Homo sapiens: one gene and its partners. The protein of the gene in region 2 purifies or fractionates together with the protein of the main gene of each other region. This does not show direct contact. Each region holds a gene or a part of one and is shown on either strand. Other genes may lie near its edges. The genes, in order: HELZ, RCBTB1, ABCD4 and HOXB6.

Region 1 (5,641 bases), on a different chromosome or scaffold from region 2:
CCAGAGAAAGTCAGTGAATAATATGGGGAGCTGATGTTTTGGTTAACTGTTGTAAATGTTCTCTAAACCTCTTCTCCCTCCTTTGTACAAGACAGTACGATAAATATGGCCTTTCAGCACATGAAGTTTTGTTTTTATTGAAGAATCAGAGGGCAAATGCTGGGAGTTTATTTTTAAATGGTTCAACAAAGTATATGATAAAACAGTCTTTCCTATTCTACTTAGATTTTTAGAACAAGGAATCTGTAGGTATGGTGCCCAGTGTACTTCAGCACATTCCCAGGAAGAACTAGCAGAATGGCAGAAAAGATATGCTTCACGGCTGATAAAATTGAAACAGCAAAATGAGAATAAACAGCTCTCAGGCAGTTACATGGAAACCTTGATAGAAAAGTGGATGAATTCATTGTCTCCTGAGAAAGTGGTGAGGAAAATAAGCTACATTATTTTTTGTTTGTCTTAAACAATGAACTTGAGTCTTGACTTTATTGTGTGCTCTATTTTGGTTTATTTCCTTATCTTCTTTGCAAAGAACTTGATTCTGATAGAATGATGTTTTTAGTAGCTATAGTAGACCCATTTGTTAAAATGAAGAGCAGAACTAAACCACTTGTTTGGAGATTTGCCTGTACTGTATTAATTACCTTCATTCAGGCAGTTTTTGAGTGCCATTTTTGTGGTGGTGGTTAATTTTCTTTTCTCTCTTATTTTAGCTTTACTATATTTTGTTCTTGTCAAAATTACTGAAAATGAAGGTATAAAATACTTTGGTCTGTAAACAGTTCCATCATCATCTTAACTGTTGACATTTATTTTCCATGCTAAAAGATTTTGTTTGTGCCCTTAGCAATAAAAACATAACATAAATTGCTGTCTGTTTTCAGCTTAGTGAATGTATAGAAGGAGTAAAGGTAGAGCACAATCCTGACCTGTCAGTTACTGTCAGCACCAAAAAATCCCACCAGACATGGACCTTTGCTCTCACTTGTAAGGTATGAATTTTGTGCTAGTTAAAGCATAAAAGTTGTGTTTAATTTTCTGAACGTTTTTTTGACCTTTGAATCTCTGTGTTAAAGAATATTGAAAATATTTTAATCTAAGTACATTATATATAGGTTCTATATTGTACTAAAGTATATTTCTGTACTTTGATCATTAAAAGTACAATTTTAAAAATACTTTTAGATGAGATCTTTGTAGATATTTAGGGTGCTTTCATATTTATTTATTTGGTAAAGAGATCTTTGACATATTGTCTTCTAAACTTGGGACATAGGATGGGGTTCATGGCTTGTAATTAACTACTTAAAAATTGTTTATTCTAGTAGTTCTAAGATTTTTAAACCATAACAACTTGTTTTTATATTTGATATGATGAAGTCACAAATTCTGTGATAATGGGTTTTTAATATGGGGCATTTTCTGCAGTGCTTCCCATCTTAAATTATAGTAGTCAAAGTTTAAGATCGAAGCAAAGTAAAAAGTTTCTGTGAGTATGCTCAGTGGAAAAGTTTTTGTCTTTTTTGTGGCATTTCTTCTGCTGTACTTTCTGTATCTGGAGATGAAAAATCTAAGAACAGTTAGCTTCAGCCTTGAACCCAATCCAGTGCTTTCAGAGGTAACTGCCCTCTTACGAAGGCTTCCTACTTGAGGCTACATGAAACTTCTGTAGGTGAAGAGTATGGAAAGTTTGAAGGTTGATGGTTATATAGGGTGATAGCTTTTGCCACAGTGAAAAATGAACATGTCACAGGAAGAGAAGGGAGGCTAGCGATATAGCATAAATAAATAATTTTAACAACTGATTTTAAAAAACCATTCTGATTTTTTTCTTAAATGGCTATAGTATCTTAGAAGCTTGGGGAAGTAAAAGTCCCTTATGGAAATATTTTCATTGAAGAGCCCAATTACAATTGGATTTTTCACCCCCTTGTACTCAATGAATTATTTTAACTTCCTTGTAGCCTGCAAGAATGCTGTATCGTGTAGCATTGCTTTATGATGCTCATCGTCCTCATTTTAGTATCATTGCAATATCTGCCGGAGATAGTACTACCCAGGTATCACAAGAAGTCCCAGAAAACTGTCAAGAATGGATAGGAGGAAAGATGGCCCAAAATGGATTAGATCATTACGTGTATAAAGTCGGGATAGCATTTAACACAGAAATATTTGGAACTTTTCGCCAAACCATAGTTTTCGACTTTGGATTGGAACCAGTACTCATGCAAAGAGTAATGATTGATGCAGCTTCTACAGAAGGTAATATTTAGACTTTTTTCCCCCGATACAATGTGTTAAAAAGCAACATTCAAAGATATGTATTGGCCCCTGAATATATTCCATGGATAGGAAGAGAATAGTAATAAAGAAAAAAATCCCAACTTAATTGACTCATTTACTGTGTAATGGGCTTATAATGATTCACACTGTGCCCTGATTTCTTCACAGAGCCACCAGGTAAAGCTTGAACTTTGAGGTTCCCCAAACTTGTATGAGTAGATGATCAGACCTGTTTTGGTCTACCAGTTTCATTTCACAGTAAGATGGTTTTAGCACAGTAATATCTTTCAATATTAGTTTGGGTAGAATATCATTTTAATGGTAATTGTGTATATACCTACAATGTTTATTTTCATGTCCTATTGACTAGTTAACTTTGCTGATGTTAGTACATTGTTTCTGAATGAAAAGTCTTGAGTATAATAAGCCTTCATAAATCAGTTTGTGCATCCACTAGTGTTAAGGAGGCCAAGGGTGCCTTTAATCAAATCTGCTCTTTGTTTTTGGGAAGAGGTCCCTGGTTTCATCATGTAAGCATGACATAAGGAATTACTTTGTACATTGTCAATTTATTGCCTATATCTAAATTTTATGCCAAGATCCAACAGGACAAAGAAAGGACATGTTAGCCCACATTTCCTTTGCTCTTGGTTGGATTTATAGGTGTTCTATTCTATTTAACAAAAACTTTTTATTTAACAAACACTTCAAAAAGCAGAGCTGTGTGAAACTTGCTTTTGTATTGACTATAACTAACCATATTGTGGAGGACGTTTTTTACTATGTACCATAATGTCCCATTCATGAGAACCTAGAAGTAGTTTTTCTCATTAGCGAATGCTAGAATTTTATTTTTTTTCACATAGTGAAAAGGTGAAATTGGTCTGTCTTCCTCTTTACTTTAGCTGCTAGTAAGGTTGAAACAACGATGGTGCCCAAATTTAACAGTTAGGTGACATCTTCTTCTACGTGTGCTAAGATTACCCAGACTTCACTTTACCCTTATTTCCCACTGACTTTGATCCCTTTTACTTGTTTTTATTCTGTAGTATGTATTTTTGTCATCTTTTCAGTACTCTTTGGAATCAGAATAAATTAATTTCCATAGCTAAATAGATATGGTAGTTGATAAAATAAAAATAAAGTATTTGGCTTATATATATTAGCATAGTATTTGGCAAATTCTTTCTGCAGAGGGCCAGACGGTTAATATTTTAGGTGTTGCAGGGCAGGTGATCTCTGTTGCAACTACTCAGCTCTGCGTCGTAATGAGAAAGCAGCCATAGACAATGCATAAGCAAATGGGTGTGACTGTGTTCCAATAAAACTTTATTTTCAAAAACAATGGCTACATTTGACTTTCGTGTTGTAGTTTGCCTACCCCTGAACTAGTAAGTTGCTTTTAGAGACCAGACCTTGAGAACCACTAAGCAGCATCCTTTTTAAATCATAAAGAGATTTAAGTCATAAAGAGAGAACAACATACATTTCCTACTCTCAAATATAACTGTAAAGGATGTTCTTGGCTTACATGTGGGTTGTATTTTAGAAATTTGCTTGTAGGTTAGTGGCTTATAACTCAGACTCCTTTACCCATAGAAATGTTTGTAAGTGCTGTCAAGAATTCTTATTAGTTAGTAAAATATTTAATTAATAATATAAAATGTTAAATGTCTGCAGTAAAATGTAAAAGAACGATAGTATTAAAACATGATAATTAGAAAAGGTGGTGATGAAAAGGAGCTCAGGGTACTTTCATAGGCTTGAGAAGAGTAAAAGTACTTTGACTACTTCTGCCTCAGATACGAGTTACTTTTCTTGTTGGAGAAGAGCAGAGGACAAAAATCAGAGTCAAATAGAATAGGATTTGAATCCTGATTTTCGACTTATTGCCTGTGTGAGCCTGGGCAGAGTACTTAACTTCTCTGGGCTTCACGGGGAAACATCTGTAAAATGGGGCTAGTAATACCTGTCATAGATCATTGTGACAACCTGAAGCCTCGTACGACATCAGGCTCATAGTAGACGTTTAGTTAATAGTAGCTATTATGTTTATAATTAGCCTTGATTAGGATAATTTCTGGCTTATACACAAAAGGAAGAAAGTAGGAAAAGAGAAGAGTTGGGTTTTTTTTTTGTTTCTTTATTTTGTTTTTGTTTTTTAAAATGAGGACTCGGACTAGGGTGCAAGCAGAGGACTTAAAAAGCAGAGAGCCCTTGAGGCCACAGTGCCTGCAGATGTTGGCAAGAGAACACATTGTAGGAGTTGAAAGCGTAGTTTTCCAAGATGATTGATGTTTTGAGCCTGGTAGCTGGAAGAAACAAAGAATCTCCTTTCTGATATTTCTAACATATTAGTTTGAAAATTAAGTTTTACATTTCATTCAGATGTGGTAGAGAGGATTTATATAGACAAGGATATCCTCCTCTTTTTTCATAATACCATATCCTTTTTTTAGTGACTTCTTTGTAGTTTGATGTCTTTGCCTTTTTTCCTTTAAGATTTTACTTTTAAGTAGTTATGTGATAGAAAATAATTGAAAAAACTTAAGCATTTTCTTGGACTAATTTGGAAACATTAAAATGATTTCACATAGTGAAATTTGTTTAAAGACAAAGGAGAAATAACAAACAGTATGAAATCTACAAAATGCATTTTCTTATGTAAGATTTTGAAAGTTGGGGAAAGGAAAACTTAGATCTAGGTTTTAGGCAAGCTAGATGATATTGGGCTAACTTTTTTTGGTCATCAGCATAATGACTTATGCTAATTTTTAGCTCTTTGATAACTTCCCCACCCTTAAAATTGATGTCATTGAATATCTTACCATTTTGTTAACTCTTGAAATTTTTATTGCGTGACTACTTTTGTTTCATTGTGATTATGTGGAGAGTCCTAACAGAATTGTAAAGAAATAAAAGCAGAATATAAGTAGTGTAATATTTGTTTCTTGCTTTTATCTCAGTACTATTACAGTTAGTGTTTTTGATTATCACGGGAGAGTCCATGTCAGCAGAAAATATGTTTATGGGCAAACAATTTGTTTATGTGAAATTACAATTTTATAAAATGTTCTGAGACAATAAAAATGTAAAATGGCAGTGTCCTATTTTGTATCTTTTCCTGGAATACTTGTGTGGACAACATTCAGAGACATTGAGAGCAAGATAACTGCTTTGTTAAATTGGTGACAATCTGACAGCCTGGCTAATTTGATCTTCAGCCTCAGCCAGTTCATCATTGGATCTTCCTTGGCCTGGAATTAGGAGAAAAGTGTCATTCCAGGTATAAGTTGGCCAAATGCAATTGGGAATTCAATTAGGTCTGGGATCTGTCATATTTCCATATGGTTTCGAA
Region 2 (5,641 bases):
GAGACAGAGTCTTGCTCTGTTGCCCAGGCTGGAGTGCAGTGGTACAACTTCTCCCTCCCAGATTCAAGCAATTCTCCTGCCTCAGCCTCCCGAATAGCTGGGATTACAGGTACGCACCACCACACCCAGCTAATTTTTGTATTTTTAGTAGAGACAGGGTTTCACCATGTTGGCCAGGCTGGTCTCAAACTCCTGATCTCAAGTGGCCCACCTTGGCCTCCCAAAGTGCCGGGATTACAGGCGTGATCTCCAAGCCTGGCCATTTTTTTTTTTTTAAGCACACCTTCATGGTGAGGTATTTCAAATGTTTTCACTCATTTATTTAATTCAACATGCATTTTTGAGCGCCAGCTCCATGCCCACACTGTGACAGACTCTGGGGAATCACACTTATTTGGAGTCTTTCTAAAGGAAGTTTTTATCATGTTTATACTTAATATGAGAAAAATGAAAACTAGTAAAGGAAATGACCTGCTGGCACAGGAAGCAGCAGCAGAGGCTTTTTCTGTAAACTTCCTAGGACAGATCTTAGCTAAAAGTGAGGAAGAAGTTTCCAGCAACTTGAGCCGAGACATCTGCCTCTGCCCAGGTTGTTCTCACTGGTGTTAGTCAGCAAGGTCTGATCCTGAGTATGGAACTCGTTAACAAGGAGGAGGAGCGTGGAGAGGCCCAGAGAGGATTCTAACATCCGTCACCAAATGGACAGAAAAGGCACTAACCCAATTTAAAATTATATCACCGGGTGGAAATAAAATCTAAAGAAACAGCTTTTCTAATAAAGAGGTTCAGGGTGTCACAGGAAGGACAGGAAAAAAATCATACCCCATTTTCTATTAGAAATGATTTACTTTGATCATCATTCCATCTGTTGTCGGGCTGCAGACAAAGTCAGCTACATTTGACCTTATCAAATATTTATAATCAGAATATAGCCTCAAACAAAAATAAGATACATTTTGAAAACATCGTGGTCAACTTTGATCCCTATGTGTGATGAAGTGTGTCCTCTTATACCTCAAAGGACACAGCTGCAGATCTTTGCAGGTGTTTGATAAACTCCTTGATACCAGATATTCTGCTTTGTCAAATGACAAAGTATCTGCAAGGATAGGCTAATTGTAACATTCTACATGCACAACTTAGCTAGATATTTTGAAACTCCAAGGCTATTGCTCTCTACCTTTTATTCTCTCTGAATCTGTGAAACCAACCATACCCGCCTTCAGCTCACTGATCATCCTTAATGCTTCCTTTAAGGTACTATCTTCATCCAGTTCAACATTTATCAGGTGCCTAATATGTGCCAGGCACTATAGGGTATACAGACGAATGAGACAGTTCCTGCTCACGAGGAGCTTACAGTCTGATGCTTTGGTTCTTCAAAAAAATGCACACAAACTTTCAGACTCCCCAAAGCCCATTAATTCACAGGCTCAACAGATCTGTGAATCTCAGATTAAGAACTCAACCCAGTGCAAAAACAAAAGGAGTCCACAGCAAGTTCTTAACAGGTAAATAACTGTGAGCTGTAATTAGACACTAATAGAATTGCAGAGCGTACACAGATACAAATCATACACATCCCCAGCTTATGACAGGGCAGAGGTGGAAAGACAGCAAGGTAAGTCTCGAAATAAACACATATGCTGACATTAAGAAAGACTTGAAACTAAAATATGCTGTTTGTTAGTCCAATTAGTTGTGGCACCTTATGTTCCAACCTGCAGCACAGCTGCTAGGACCTTGGTTCGTTTCCTGTCTTACTTAGAAATGAAAGTAGAGGAACAACGACTTTTGAAACAATGAACAGGGAATTAAGAAGCAAGGGCAGATTTCAGTTTTCAATGGGTTCACTGATTCCCTAAACAGAAGTGGAGTGACTCATCGTTTTCCATGCCTCACGCAAGAAGCGGGGGAGACGAGCACAAAGGGAGTTAAAGGTGGTCTGGTTTCTGTTTGTTGTTTAAGTTACCTCTGCATCATATCTGACTGCAGCAGAGAATAGCGAAAAGGCATTCTCCACAGTAATTCCTCTCTTGATAATGTGCTGACAAAGTTTTTTCAGTCTGTTTTCACAGTAAGATGTCGCCAAATCCAGAAGACCTAAAAGTAAAATATGTGAAAGGTTTAATCAAATGTATAATAATTTCCAATACACAGAGATTTTGTTTTGGTGAACAGAGGTGTACAGGTAAATTAGAAGTTTCTTAGTGGATAAGATTCTGAATTTGAGTAAATAAATTCTCTTTTTTACTGTCTGCCTCCTCCACTTCCACACCTCTCCTATATTTACTTTATACAATTTCTTCAATAGTGCAAAGAAAGAGCAAAAAATGCAATTTCAATCCTCATTTTGTTTCTAAAACGCTAAATGCATTAGCAACTTATACTTCACTACTAGAAAATTAAAATAAGCCCATAGCTTAATACCTAGGTGATGGGTTGACAGGTACAGCAAACCACCATGGCACACGTTTACCTATGTAACAAGCCTACACATCCTGCACGTGTACCCCAGAACTTAAAAATAAATTAAAAAAAAAAAAGTCCTTCAGTAACATTAGAACAAAAAAGCCTATGGTCATAAACTAGGTCCAAAACTATTAACCATAATAACTACACAATACTACTTTTAAAGATACTTACTTCAAATCTTTTTTAAGCACCAAATTAAAGCCAATACACCTGAAGCTTTTTACATTTCAGGACTAAGAATATGAGGGGATATATTCTCCACCATGCGGCTCGTCCATCCCAATGCTACCACAGTACCTATAGCATCTTCTGGCGGCAGGTCGACTGTGTCTGTGTAGAGGTACTGGAGAAAGGCACGATACACTGGGTAAGAAAACTGATCGATTTCTATCACTTCCTTCATGTCTTCATTCCAATACGACTGGAACATGGATCGAAAATGCTCACACCTAAAACAGCAAAGCAAAAGTCTTATTTGTTCAGCAGCAATTTTTAAAAAAGAAAAAAAAATTACCTAATTAAGTTGATAAAATCAGATAAACAGAAGTATCCTTGGGCCGGGCGTGGTGGCTCATGCCTGTAATCCCAGCACTTTGGGAGGCCAAGCGGGTAGATCACCTGAGATCAGGAGTTCGAGACCAGCCTGACCAACATGGATAAACCCCGTCTCTACTAAAAATACAAAATTAGCTGGGCATGGTGGTGCATGCCTATAATCCCAGCTACTCAGGAGGCTGAGGCAGGAGAATCGCTTGAACCCGGGAGGTGGAGGTTGTGGCGAGCCGAGATTGCGCTTCTGCACTCTAGCCTGGCAACAAGAGCAAAACTCCGTCTCAAAAAAAAAAAAAAAGTAAGTATATTAACTACTATCTGGGCCTGAACACACCAGGATCACAGACCTTTAGTTAGCACCCAAAAAACATTCCACATGCAAGTGGTTTTTGTACATGCCTTTTACATACACTCACTTTCATTTTTTGTAACTCCTATTAAATACTAATAGGTATACATAGAGCCTGGAAGTACCTAGCACTTCCACTACTGTTTCCATTTGATGGTCCCCAAGATTTTTTTGCTCCTTTGTTTTTTTTAAAATGATGTACAGAAATGCATTTTAAACAATAAAGTGAAAGAAATTCAGAAACAAGAGTTCAAAACTTTTGACTATGTATCAACATTAAAATGATTCATTTGTTTTTTGTTTTACATAATAAGCATATTCTTAAAACTGTTTTATATGTTAACTGGATTACATCAAGCTGATTATTGTCTGATTATCCGACAATTTTTCTTCTTTTCTGACTTATCGTCAAAACAGCCATCACTCCTTTTTTTTTTTTGCATTGCCTGTTCCCCTTCCTCTCTTCCCAGGCCTGCTACAAGCTTATTTATAAAACACTCACATCCACTAGGATAGTCAGATATTTCAAGAAAACCTGAGCAGCTCCTACACTGTATTTACATGTACAAAGCCACCTGCACAAGAAACTGATTTCTGAATATTGGATTTTCTTATGTATAACACAGTTGTATCTTTCTAAAAATCATATTTTTAAATTATTTTAAAGTGAGATACGGCACAAAGAGAAAAAGTATTCTGAGGTGCAGTGGCTCAAGCCTGTAATTCCAGCACTTTGGGAGGCCGAGGCAGGTCAGCCTCAATCACCTGAGGTCAGGAGTTTGAGACCGGCCTGGCCAACATGGCGAAACTTTGTCTCTACTTAAAATACAAAAATTAGCTGGGCGTGGTTAGTGCACGATTGTAATCCCAGCTACTTGGGAGGCTGAAGCTGGAAGATCGCTTGAACACAGGAGGTGGAGGTTGCAGTGAGCTGGTATTACGCCACTGCACTCTAGCCTGGGTGACAGAATGAGTCTCTGTCTCAAAAAAAAAAGAAAAAGAATCCATTCAGAATACTAAAAAAATAGTTTCACTTACATAAAAAATTACCTGAGAAATAAAAAAGAAATAGTTGTCTAAGAAAGAATCATGGATTTCATGGTCAGAAAACTGTACATGAAAGGAATAGACTGGTTGACCACAGGTGCACAGACAGAAACAGTTCCAGTTCATCTTTTCAATTAATACTGTGGTTCAGATATTTACTCCCTTAGGTAAGGAATGACATAGGGCTTTTCTGTTCCTTTCAAATGTATTTCTTTGCCAATAGGTTTTTACCTAAATTTCCAAAAAGACTTGTAAATGGCCACTTTAATGGTCTTAGCTTATGTGCCTTTTTCTGCAATGGCAACCTTTGTGGCAAACAGTTACTAATAAACGCATAGGTCCCTCACATTTATACAAGGAACTATATCTTAAAAACTTTTTTTTTCATTTTTGAGATAAGATCTCACTCTGTCTCCCAGGATGATCACAGCTCACCACAGCCTTGATCTACTGGGCTCAAGCAATCCTTCCACCTCAGCCTCCAGAGCAGCTGGAACTACAGGAATGCACCACCACACCTGGCTAATTTTTTCTATTTTTTGTAGAGACAGTGTCTCGCTATATTGCCTAGGCTGGTCTCAGACTCCTAGGATCAAGTGATATTCCCGCCTTGGCCTCCCAAAGTCCTAGGATTACAGGCATGAGCCACCATGCTGAGCCTAGAACATTCTTCAATTGGTAATTGCATGTCCCTTAGAAACAGAAGCACAGCATTCCTATGAGAGTTTTCTGCTTAATCTATAATTAAAAGAGGGCATATACACTTTTCAATAACAACCTTTTGTATTTTCTTTAACCACGTAAATAAATTTTCTGATGGAAATGAGTATTCACCAGATTCTTAATTTAAAAAACAATATAAGCTGGGCGTGGTAGCTCACATCTGTAATGCCAGCACTTTGGGAGGCTGAGGCGGGCAGATCACCTGAGATCGGGAGTTCGAGACCAACCTGACCAACATGGAGAAACCCCATCTCTATTATAAATACAAAATTAGCCAGGCATGGTGGCGCCTGCCTGTAATCCCAGCTACTCAGGAGGCTGAGGCAGGAGAATCACTTAAACCCGGGAGGCAGAGGTTGCGGTGAGCTGAGATCGTGCCACTGCACTCCAGCCTGAGCAACAAGAGTGAAACTCTGTCTCAAAGAAACAAACAAACAAACAAACAAACAAACACAAAAAACCAATATGGACAAATACTTAAATTCCTACATTACA
Region 3 (5,641 bases), on a different chromosome or scaffold from region 2:
TCTCCAAAATAATCTGGATGCTGGGCATAGGAGCTCCTGCCTGTGGTCCCAGCTACTTGAGAGGCTGTGGTGGGAGGATCACTTGAGCCCGGGAAGTCAAGGCTGCAATAAGCTGTGATTGTGCCACTAGATTACAGCCTGGGCTACAGAGTGAGGTGTGAGACACTGTCTCAAAAATAAATAATAAAAAATAAAAATAAACAAAATAACTTGGCAGCGGCAGCAGCGTCTGTGAAAAAGGCTTAGGAGCTGAAGAAGTCAGTAAGGATAGAGTAAGTCATTTTTAAGTGGTACCAAGAAAGCGTTAAATAATCTTATATTTTACAGTGAGAAAATACAATTCTCACTCCATCTTTCTGATTTTATTAAGGAGAAAAATCTCAGTTGAGTGCCAGTCCGTCTAACTCCTCACCTCTCTTTTTTACAAAATGAACAAGCCTCAGGCCCAGAGTCTATGCAGGCAACAGCATCTAGCCGTAAGTTAATAACACCGATGGTTTTTCTTGTATTTATTTTTAGTTACTTTCCATCTATGTTAAGTGTAAAATTTCACTTAAAAATCCATTTAAACTTAAAAGGTTTGTTTTTAAAAATATTAAGTAACTCAAGTACTAGAAGTACAGAAGCCTGGCAAAAATTATGAAGGTAAGGAAGGTAATACATAGACAACTGAACTGGAGGGGCACTGGTCTGAGTGAGGACTTTGGGCACAGTAACTCCACCTCATGCTTTGTGCTTTCTGGGTTTTGTCTAATTTGCTGTTGTTGTTCCCTAATATAGACTATTTTTTTAGAAAACCCAACCTTATTTTGGCTAAGGGGAAAGGGATTTACTTTCATTTGGGTTAAGGTAGGGCAGACCAAAGGCCCCTGGAAGTTAGTGGTTCAGGTTCTAACTACACAACACTGGCAAGTGGAAAGGGAGATGTGGGGAGAAGTGAAAAACCCTGGGCATAAGATTCCAGAACAGCAGAGTGTGCTTCCCTTCCCACCAAGCTGTCAAATACAAATCTGGAGATTCAATAAAAAAGATCATTCCATGATAGAGAAGACAGAAAGCTGTAATTCTTTTTAATGTTTAACTTTTCTTTGTAAAAAACTTATTAAAAAACTTAAATGGTCAGTTAAAGTTAAAAATCTATTGCTGCACAATTTAACTGATTAAAAGATTTCCAGATCTCTTGACTCCAAGAGTCATTTCTTTCATTTCTTACAGATCTCACACTTCCAGATTTCTCTTTAGCAAACATGATCTGAAATCATTTGTAGGTAATCAGCACTTCAAGCATATGGAGGCTCTGGCTGAGGCAGCAGAGTCCTGGGAGACTGAACACTGGGAGATTCAGTGTCCCCCACAGAAACCTAGACCTGGGCTCAGCCCACCACTGCTAGGGGTCCTGCACAGGACCCATGTGGCTCCTGCACGGGATCTATGTGGCGAACCTGAGCTCGATCTTCGCTGTCAGTCCTCCTGGTCTCTCCTGAGGGCCGCCGACCCGCCACAGTGTGGCTCTCCTTCCAAAAGCCAGAGCTTCATTCCACTTTGATTCTCATCAGCTCCCATCTTCCTCCTCCACAGAGTTTCAGAACCAAGGAATGAAACTACAAGAGACCACCACCACATGGAGATCAGGCTGCCCTGGCCGCTGGCAGAGGAGGCCACTCGGTTCTCTCTGCTACTGCTACTCCCCGTTTTGAGGGGCCTCTGGCCCTGGCCAGGCTGAGCCTTTGGGTTCTTTCTCCTCCTCAGGCCATCCTTGTGAGCACGGGTACCTTCTCAAGGCTCTGCCGATGTCCCACACTGATGAACGTCATCCCCAGCTGCTGGCCGATGCGATAGAGCTCGCTCTCCACTTCCTCTGTCAGGGCACTGGTGGCTTCATCAAGCACTGAGGGGGCAGAGCACAGAGGAAGAGATCAAAGCCCTGCCCTCTGCCGCCGCTGCTTCTCCTCCCACCCATACTCAACCCCAGCTGGGACCCAGGGGAGGCTGAAAGCTGCTCTGGCTTCCAGAAGCCCTGCCTCAGGGAGAAGGATGGGCCAGAGGAGCAGAGGGCCAGACTCTCCAAGGGAATAGCCTGTGAGCAGCTGCATGAAATCTCTCAGCTTCTATAGATAAGCACCAGCCACTCCCTGGGACCACTCAATCCAGGGAATCCCAGTCCCCCGCAAGAATGTCAGTCTTTGGAAAAGTCCACACCCATCCACCTGCCAGGCACAGCTTGGTGGGAGAGGAGGATGGGTGCCCATTCATTTGATGGTGGAGCCAGAGGAGCATAAAATTATAACCCTTCAATGTTGGCTCCTGGCTCCAGCTGCTGCCAGGCAAAAAGCTTATGAGCTAGGCATAGTGGTTCATGCCTGTAATCCCAGCACTTTGGGAGGCCAACGTGGGAGGATGGCCTGAGTCCAGGAACTCCAGACCAGCCTGGGCAACATAGCATGACCCTGTCTCTACAAAAATAAAAATAAAAAAATTAGCAGGGTGTGGTGGCACATGCTTGTAGTCCCAGCTACTCAGGAGGCTGAGGTGGGAGGATCACTTAAGCCTGGGAGTTCCAGGCTGCACTGAGCCATGACTGTGCCCCTGTACCCCAGCCTGGGTGACAGAGTGAGACTGTCTCAAAAAAAAAAAAAAAAAAAGAAAAGAAAAAAGAAAACAGAAGAAAAGCAAGCTTATGAGCTGGCAGTACCGCATATTCAGTGTTAACTCTGACGATGCCAGGCACTGTTTACACGGGCAGGGCCTGCTGTCCTCTCCAGCAGGGAATGCGGAGAAGCCCAGCCATTCACAGGTGTGCCTGGGTGCCTGTGAACACATGCTGCTACACCCGTGAGTGCAGACAGCGCATGGCATGTGCAGCCACAAGGCGAGACCTCACCTGCGTACTTCGGCTGCAGGTAGAAGAGTCGGGCAAAGGAGAGCCGTTGCATCTCCCCCGGGGACAGAACATCATACCTGAGGAAAGGTAGGAGAGAGGACTGCTAGAGGAGGAAGAATATAGCTTGGCTTTTACCTAGAATGGTCTGGGTAGGAAGAGGTTTCTCTGCACAGAGGTGAGCCCCAGGAGACAGAAGCCCCTTCCCTTTCGACCATAGGCCTACAGCCCTCACAGAGTGAGGCAAAACTCTGTTCCCAAGGGCATAAACTTGCACCCGACTGACCAGCCAAACATCTGGACTTTGGGGTCAGGAGCCGTTCCATTCCTTGACAGGGACCCTGAAACCCACTGTCTTTATGGTGGGGCTATCTCTGGAGCACCCAAGCTCTTTTCTTACCAGTTCCAGTCCACCTGCTGGTCCAGGCCCTCTGTCCTTGCCACCAAGTTGGACTGTAACAGACCCAGAGGGCAGGATGTCCATGAAATGGCCAGCCCTGCTACCTGCCATCATGGGGAACCTCCCTCACTCCCCAGCATACACACACACCTCTAAGACAAATATATGCCCCAGTGGCATACCAAGGCGGGGGACTGTGGGACAGTCTGCCCCAGGCAGAGAGGAATATTCTACCAATGACACTGTTTAGACTTGCTGGAGCATGATGACAGTAAAAAGCAAACCGCCTTCATCAATCCTATTCTTGTTTTAAAATTCTCCAATGAGAGCACTACCCCCTTCGTGCCTAAACCTGGCCAACAGCACACACTGTCAACTGATACTCCCATTCTCCACCCCAGGTTCAGACTTCCAGTCCTGGGCCCAAGCATAGCAGGGCCAGCACCTGCCTACCTGTAGCTGGTGCTCCCAGGTGGGCTCGGGTCCTGAGGGTCCCTCTCCCCACTTACCAGGCCTGCCAATTCCAAGAACCTCAAGATCCTCTCATCATCGGCAGAACCTGCACAACAAAGAAGCCTTCTGCAAAAAGCCAGAGCCTCCTGGCTGGTCAAAATAGACAGGGCAAGGCTGTGCACAGTGGCTCACGCCTGTAATCCCAACACTTTGGGAGGCCGAGGCAGGTGGATCACAAGGTCAGGAGATGGAGACCACCCTGGCCAACATGGTGAAACGCTGTCTCTACTAAATATACAAAAATTAGGCAGGCAAGGTGGCGTGCACCTGTAGCCCCAGCTACGGAAGAGGCTGAGGCAGGGGAATTGCTTGAACCCGGGAGGTGGAGGTTGCAGTGAGCCGAGATCACACCACTGCACTCCAGTCTGGGTGACAGAGTGAAACTCCATCTCAAAAAAAAAAAAAAAAAAAAAAAAAAAGAATAGACAGGGCACATCATGGATGATGCAGGGGTGGGGGCCTCAGAATGCTGGGCGAAGGCTTTGAAACCACAGGTTGCAGATCTTCATAAGGGAAGGGGTGGGTGAAGGAAGGCATCACTTTCCTTGTCCCAGTGGGCATCTCTCCTTAAGGACAGAAAGAATGAGGTGAGATCTGGGTACAGACCCCAAAACAGTCAAAGGAAGAGGAGAGGAGCCCCTCTTCCTTGAATCAGCGGCCTGGCTGGAGCCTCTCCCCAAGGGCACAGATGAGGCCACAGTCAGGTAGAGCAGGGACAACCATGACAGAAGGAGAGGACATGACCTAAGGAGGACCAGCTCACCTGAGTCGGGGTAGACCTCCTTCAGGGGATATATCACCTGAGAAAAGAAAAAAACCACACCAACCTAGGAGGGCGAGCAAAAGACGGAGCTGCACACAGCCCACCCTCCCTCCAGAACCCACTGGAACCTCCCAAGGAGGAGAGGTGGGAACGCCTGGCCTGGGTCAGATGGGAGAGGCTCTGGCCGGCAGACAGCAGGGCAAGGTCCCTACAACCTTCAGAAGTGTGTTTAGGGGGAACAGTCTGACAGCCTCCTGAGGGCAGGGGCCCCAGAATCCGACCTTGGGTGTTTGACATACGCGTGTGGTATTTGGCGTGAGTCCTTGCCCCATTTACCTGCCTCAGGAGCTGCTATGAGTAGTGGGCCCAATCCATGGATGTGAATAGAAGGTTCTTAGAGCCAGCAGTTCCCAGGCCCGGGCCACTTCACCACCTCACCTTTTGCCCTGACTCTAGGACCTGAGACTTGTCACAGTGCCAGAGGTCCCAGCTGTGGGTGGGCGGGGTTGAGGAGGGAGGAGTGAGCCCCCTGAACTAGACTGACCTGCTCCCGAAGGGTCCCGTCAGTGAAGAATGGCTTTTGTGGCAGGAATAGCACCCCATGGGGCCCAAAGTCCGTCAGCATCTGCACTGAGCCTGCAGAGCCCACAGAAACCTCCATTGTGAGATCTCCCAGAAGAGGCAACTGCCTGTCTCCTCTCTTCCTTGTTCCCCAACAGAAAAGAATGGATTCTACCACACCGTCCCCGCCTTCACCCCACCCCTAGGGCCCAGGCTGGGTCAGAGGCAGGGAGGGCCTGGCTCTCACCCCGTGTACTCGTCCAGAGGCCACCCAGAACCCGGAGCAAGGAGGTCTTGCCAGTGCCCGTGTTGCCTGTGATGAGCAGGCTCTGTCCCTCGGAGATCTTTAGGCTCAGATCCTTGATTAGGGGTTTGTCAGAGGAGGGGGCAGAGATGGAGACCCGCTCAAGGAGAAATGCTGTGTCTGCTGGCTCTGCCGCTGGCCACCCTGGGGGTCTGTGTCAGAGAAGAGAGGGGGCGTGAGGAAGATGGGCAGGGTCAGTATTGCTGTGGGGGAGGCACTGCT
Region 4 (3,870 bases), on a different chromosome or scaffold from region 2:
TTTCAGAAAAGTTAACCCCTGCGTTGCTTCGACCCCTTCTCTCCGGGGAGGGTTGGGTAAATGTCTCCGAATCGCCTTGAGAGAGAACTAAAGAAGGTTTGTTTCTAGGGTTTTGTGTCGGTAGAAGGTGAGAAGAGTTCTCCGCTAAGATAAGCAAAGAAGAAACACCCTCCTCCCCAGGTTTTGAACATCGTTTTTCCTGTTTATCAGATCTGCTCTGTCTCCTCCAAGCCTCGGCTTATTGTTCCTGCTTCTCCACAACCCTTCTGGTCTGAGGGGGCAGGCCAGATCCCACTGCCTAGAAGACCCAGAAGAGGAGGAGCTGGCAGGAGGGACTGAGCCCAAGCTTCCCCTTCTGACTCTGTGGCTAGACTAGGAGCTTCTTGGAAGGCGGCGACGAGGGTGGCTGCCCAAAACATTCTGCCTGGTTCTAGTATGCAGCTGCTCACCCTTGGCAGGGGAAGGGGCACTGGGGAAAGGGACTAGCCCTCTCCTCACTTGGTGATATGGAGTGAAGGAGTGAGGGGTATCCCTCAGCCTAGGTGGCTTTATTTGTCTGATCCCTATCCTGCCTGCAACCCTCACTCCAGTACCCTCTACAATCCCAAAAGACTTAAGAATAGCCTGGGCTATAGGATTTTCAGGAATCAGGGATGTCCCAGTAAATCTGGGCACAAGGAAGAAATCATTCTTCTTCCAGTTGTGGGCTTTGAACCCTCCTGATAGTTGAGGCAGTCAGAGACCACTGGGAAGAAATGCATCCTCACTCCTCTTCTAAGTCTCTGTAGGAGCTGCCAGTTCTTTTTAAAATTAATTCTTTCCCAAGACTTGGTTTTTGCTTTAGTTTGATAGGGAGAGAAGGTCGTTTGCGTTCTCTTGGGGACTCAGCAGGCTGCTTCCAGCCATCAGCCAGCATCCCCTCTCCCTTCTGTCTGTATCTCAGCATCGCTACAATTCCCTCCCACACCCCGTGTTTGTATCATCAGCTTTGCCGCCTTACAAATTTAGGTGTGTCAGAGAATGTATGTCTCTGGCTCTTTCATCCAAGGAAAATAAGCATTGAGCCCAGGCTGGGAGACAGGGCCACAGTGCATTCCCAACATTCTAATATACATACACAGGCCAAGTAGTGAAGGGTGACAACCTTCACACCTGGGGACAAGAAGGGGCCAGGGCATGGAACAAAGTCAGATGTCAGGCCAGGCTGACCCTCCTCTGCCTTGTCCTTCCTTTGGGCTCCTTTTTCTGGCCAAGTTCTGCCCACTGAAGATGGTACAAGACACTAGGGAAGGTGGCAGGGGACTGAGCTTGGATCACCAAGGGTGGGAACTTATTTGGTTGCAACGTGGTCTCCAAGGCTCTCTAAACTCAGGGCAACTTCTTGGCTGTACCTTAATGGCAAAATAGCCATCCCTAGATGGCCTCCAATTACTTCCTAACCTGACTCTGTGGGAGTGTTTGATAAGCATTTAAGAAAACAAATTTAAACCCCCTGATAATGAAGAAGGATAAATATTCCATATCTAGGTATGGCTGGGCTTGCTTCTAGAGAGGACTAGGGGCCATTTGAACAGGGGGAGAAAAGTGGGAGAGAGTACCTGCATGCACCTCCCTGCCTACTGCTGAGGCTGAGCCCTGGGCCTCAGCCTTCCCTGCCTCCTCCCTGCCCACAATGTCTCCATCCTAGCACTAAATAGTGTGGTTTTCTCAGTGAAGTCTGAACAAAATAAGATCTGGTGAGGAAGGGAGCATTTCCCTGTGTCAGAAGCAGGGAAATAATTGCCTTATCTTTAGAGTCACAGCCCCCAAATTAACCTCACCTCTGCAGGTTGCTTGTCTGGAGATGGAGCCACTACAGGCGGGCCTGGGCGCCTGGAGTCGGGCATGAAAGAAAATAGCGCCTCATCGCTCTTATCTAAGCCCAGAGGTATTTATGAGCGTTTATTCGTCTGATCCGTTTGTTTGGGAAAAAGAGCAGGCGGGCAGGGCAGGCCAGAGACCGACTCCTTTCTGGAGCCAGATCCCTACGAATCTGTCTGTGGTTCGGTCCACCGCCCTCTGTCTGTCTCCTTGGGGGAATATGTAAATACACAGCGGGCTCAGCCATCCGCCAGTCTGGGGTGTCTCTCCCTGCCTCAATGAGGAAGTGTGTGTTCAGAGAGATGGATAGAAGTGTGTACCAATTCTTGAGTACATAACAGAGGGATTGTACAGATACCCCACAGGCAGGATTTATAATTGTAATTTTCTATGCTGTGAGTCTGCAGTCCTGTGGGCAAGCTAACACATTCCAGCTCCCAGGAAAATGTTTCCTAAGTTGTGTTCAGTTCGGGAGTAAAATTCTTGATAGGTAACCTCAGGAGGGATATTTGCGTGTGTGTGTGTGTGTGTGTGTGTGTGTGGTGTGGTGTGGTGTGTGTGGGAGGGTGCTGAGACATTGTCCAGGCTTCCAATTTCCTCTAAGCTATAAAGCCCTCTCCCTCAGCTCTTTGAGGTGATGAGCACCTTCTCCCACCACCCCCAACTTTGGCTGGGGTGGGGTGGGATGAAAATATTTCAACTCAATTCTCGTCCTGGACTCTGTTTCTCTGGGTTTGGGGAACATAAATAAATGTTCCCAGGGGTACTGAGTGATCACTCCCATAGGTTGAGGGAGGCTGTTTAGATGAGACACTTTGCCCTAAAATCGGCCCCTCCAAATCAAAGTACAAAGACTTCATTTTCATTATGCAAAGGAGCGGCATCCTCTTTGATCTTTAGGGGAGTGAGCAGTAGTGCTGAACCCACTCTCCCGGTTTCCTACCCGCAGGTCCAGGGGACAACCTGAGGGCCCTGAAGTGTTTCAATACCATGTACCAGCTTGACTTCTCTACATGTCCTTTGGATTGCCCAAAAGCAAAATCTCAGAGGGGCCAAGGACCTTCTAGGGCTGGCTCCCTCAGGGCCTCCTATAGAGCAGCTCCTTGAGTCGGGCCTTATAGCCACCAGAAAGTCACCTCGCCGCAGGAAAGCTATAAAGAGCTGCTCCAGAGGCGCCGAAAGAGGGTGAGGGCTGCAGCCACAGTGTTTGTCCCCAGCACCACCAGGCCCCTTAACCTCGTCAGCTCCTCTAGCCCTCGGCCAGACTCTGGCAACACCTTGGTTTGCCTGGCACCGCAGGCAATTTCCTGGAACCCCACCCCCACCCAGGAACGGGGACCACAGCACCTTTAAAGGAACTGCCAGAGCTTCCTCCTACGGCTTGAAAGCCCAAGCTAATCAGTAACCCGTGAGACAGGGGCCAATATTCAAACGCTGCAGCAGAGGCGCATAGCCTAGCCCTGGCCACCCCCTCTTGGGAAGGAGGTCGAGTTAAGCCGGTGTGGAGGGTCCAACAGGAACGGAAATTACGACGGTGTGGTTCCTTAAGGATTTGGCCCCAGTCCCACTACCAAATTTTTCCCAAATCATATTTAGGTAGACTTCGCTTGAAAAGATCGAGAATGGAGGAGGGGATCGGCACTCACTTGCAGACATCAACAGTTTCCAGAAAATTCGGTTCAATTCCTTCACCACGGACCCACCAACCAAGGAGCTGGCAAAACCCACTAACCAACCAGGAGAACACAGACCCGGTTTGTCTTTTGACAACCGAGTGGAACTGACGGGGCCGGCGCCTGCCCTGCGGGTCCCCTCCCTTGGCTGAGAAGAAAACCAAATAAACCTTGAACAGCCTTGGCTTCGGATGTCTCAAGCGGCCTCATCCTCTCCCGCGCCTTGGTGGGGTGGGGGTGGGGATGGCGGTGGGGGTGTCGGCTCTGATCCCTCCACCCTTTGATTCAGGGCCCCTGCCCGCTGGAAGCAGAATTAGACCTTTTTATATATGCCCTA

The links.
Region 1: the proteins of RCBTB1 (region 2) and HELZ purify together in Homo sapiens (affinity purification with mass spectrometry, with the first as the bait; one large-scale study listed by BioGRID). This does not show direct contact.
Region 3: the proteins of RCBTB1 (region 2) and ABCD4 purify together in Homo sapiens (co-immunoprecipitation; one large-scale study listed by IntAct). This does not show direct contact.
Region 4: the proteins of RCBTB1 (region 2) and HOXB6 purify together in Homo sapiens (co-immunoprecipitation; one large-scale study listed by IntAct). This does not show direct contact.

Annotation. Positions count from the first base shown.
Region 1 is NC_000017.11:67,184,940-67,190,580, reverse strand, and holds part of HELZ (probable helicase with zinc finger domain), read left to right. Parts: intron 1-225; coding exon 226-424; intron 425-884; coding exon 885-992; intron 993-1,964; coding exon 1,965-2,262; intron 2,263-5,545; exon of another isoform or gene 5,546-5,569; intron 5,570-5,641. UniProt on the Homo sapiens protein: May act as a helicase that plays a role in RNA metabolism in multiple tissues and organs within the developing embryo.
Region 2 is NC_000013.11:49,538,904-49,544,544, forward strand, and holds part of RCBTB1 (RCC1 and BTB domain-containing protein 1), read right to left. Parts: intron 2,925-5,641; coding exon 2,773-2,924; intron 2,104-2,772; coding exon 1,973-2,103; coding exon of another isoform or gene 1,964-1,972; exon of another isoform or gene 1,505-1,963; intron 1-1,504. UniProt on the Homo sapiens protein: May be involved in cell cycle regulation by chromatin remodeling.
Region 3 is NC_000014.9:74,284,929-74,290,569, forward strand, and holds the end of ABCD4 (lysosomal cobalamin transporter ABCD4), read right to left. Parts: intron 5,572-5,641; coding exon 5,363-5,571; intron 5,191-5,362; coding exon 5,099-5,190; intron 4,592-5,098; coding exon 4,555-4,591; intron 4,358-4,554; coding exon of another isoform or gene 4,227-4,357; exon of another isoform or gene 4,184-4,226; intron 3,838-4,183; coding exon 3,788-3,837; coding exon of another isoform or gene 3,732-3,787; intron 3,332-3,731; coding exon 3,279-3,331; exon of another isoform or gene 3,276-3,278; intron 2,959-3,275; coding exon 2,882-2,958; intron 1,889-2,881; coding exon 1,773-1,888; coding exon of another isoform or gene 1,746-1,772; exon of another isoform or gene 1,602-1,745; coding exon 1,533-1,601; 3' UTR 341-1,532; downstream 1-340. UniProt on the Homo sapiens protein: Lysosomal membrane protein that transports cobalamin (Vitamin B12) from the lysosomal lumen to the cytosol in an ATP-dependent manner. Targeted by LMBRD1 lysosomal chaperone from the endoplasmic reticulum to the lysosomal membrane.
Region 4 is NC_000017.11:48,598,619-48,602,488, forward strand, and holds part of HOXB6 (homeobox protein Hox-B6), read right to left. Parts: intron 3,724-3,870; exon of another isoform or gene 3,457-3,723; intron 3,046-3,456; exon of another isoform or gene 2,810-3,045; intron 1,928-2,809; exon of another isoform or gene 1,829-1,927; intron 1-1,828. UniProt on the Homo sapiens protein: Sequence-specific transcription factor which is part of a developmental regulatory system that provides cells with specific positional identities on the anterior-posterior axis.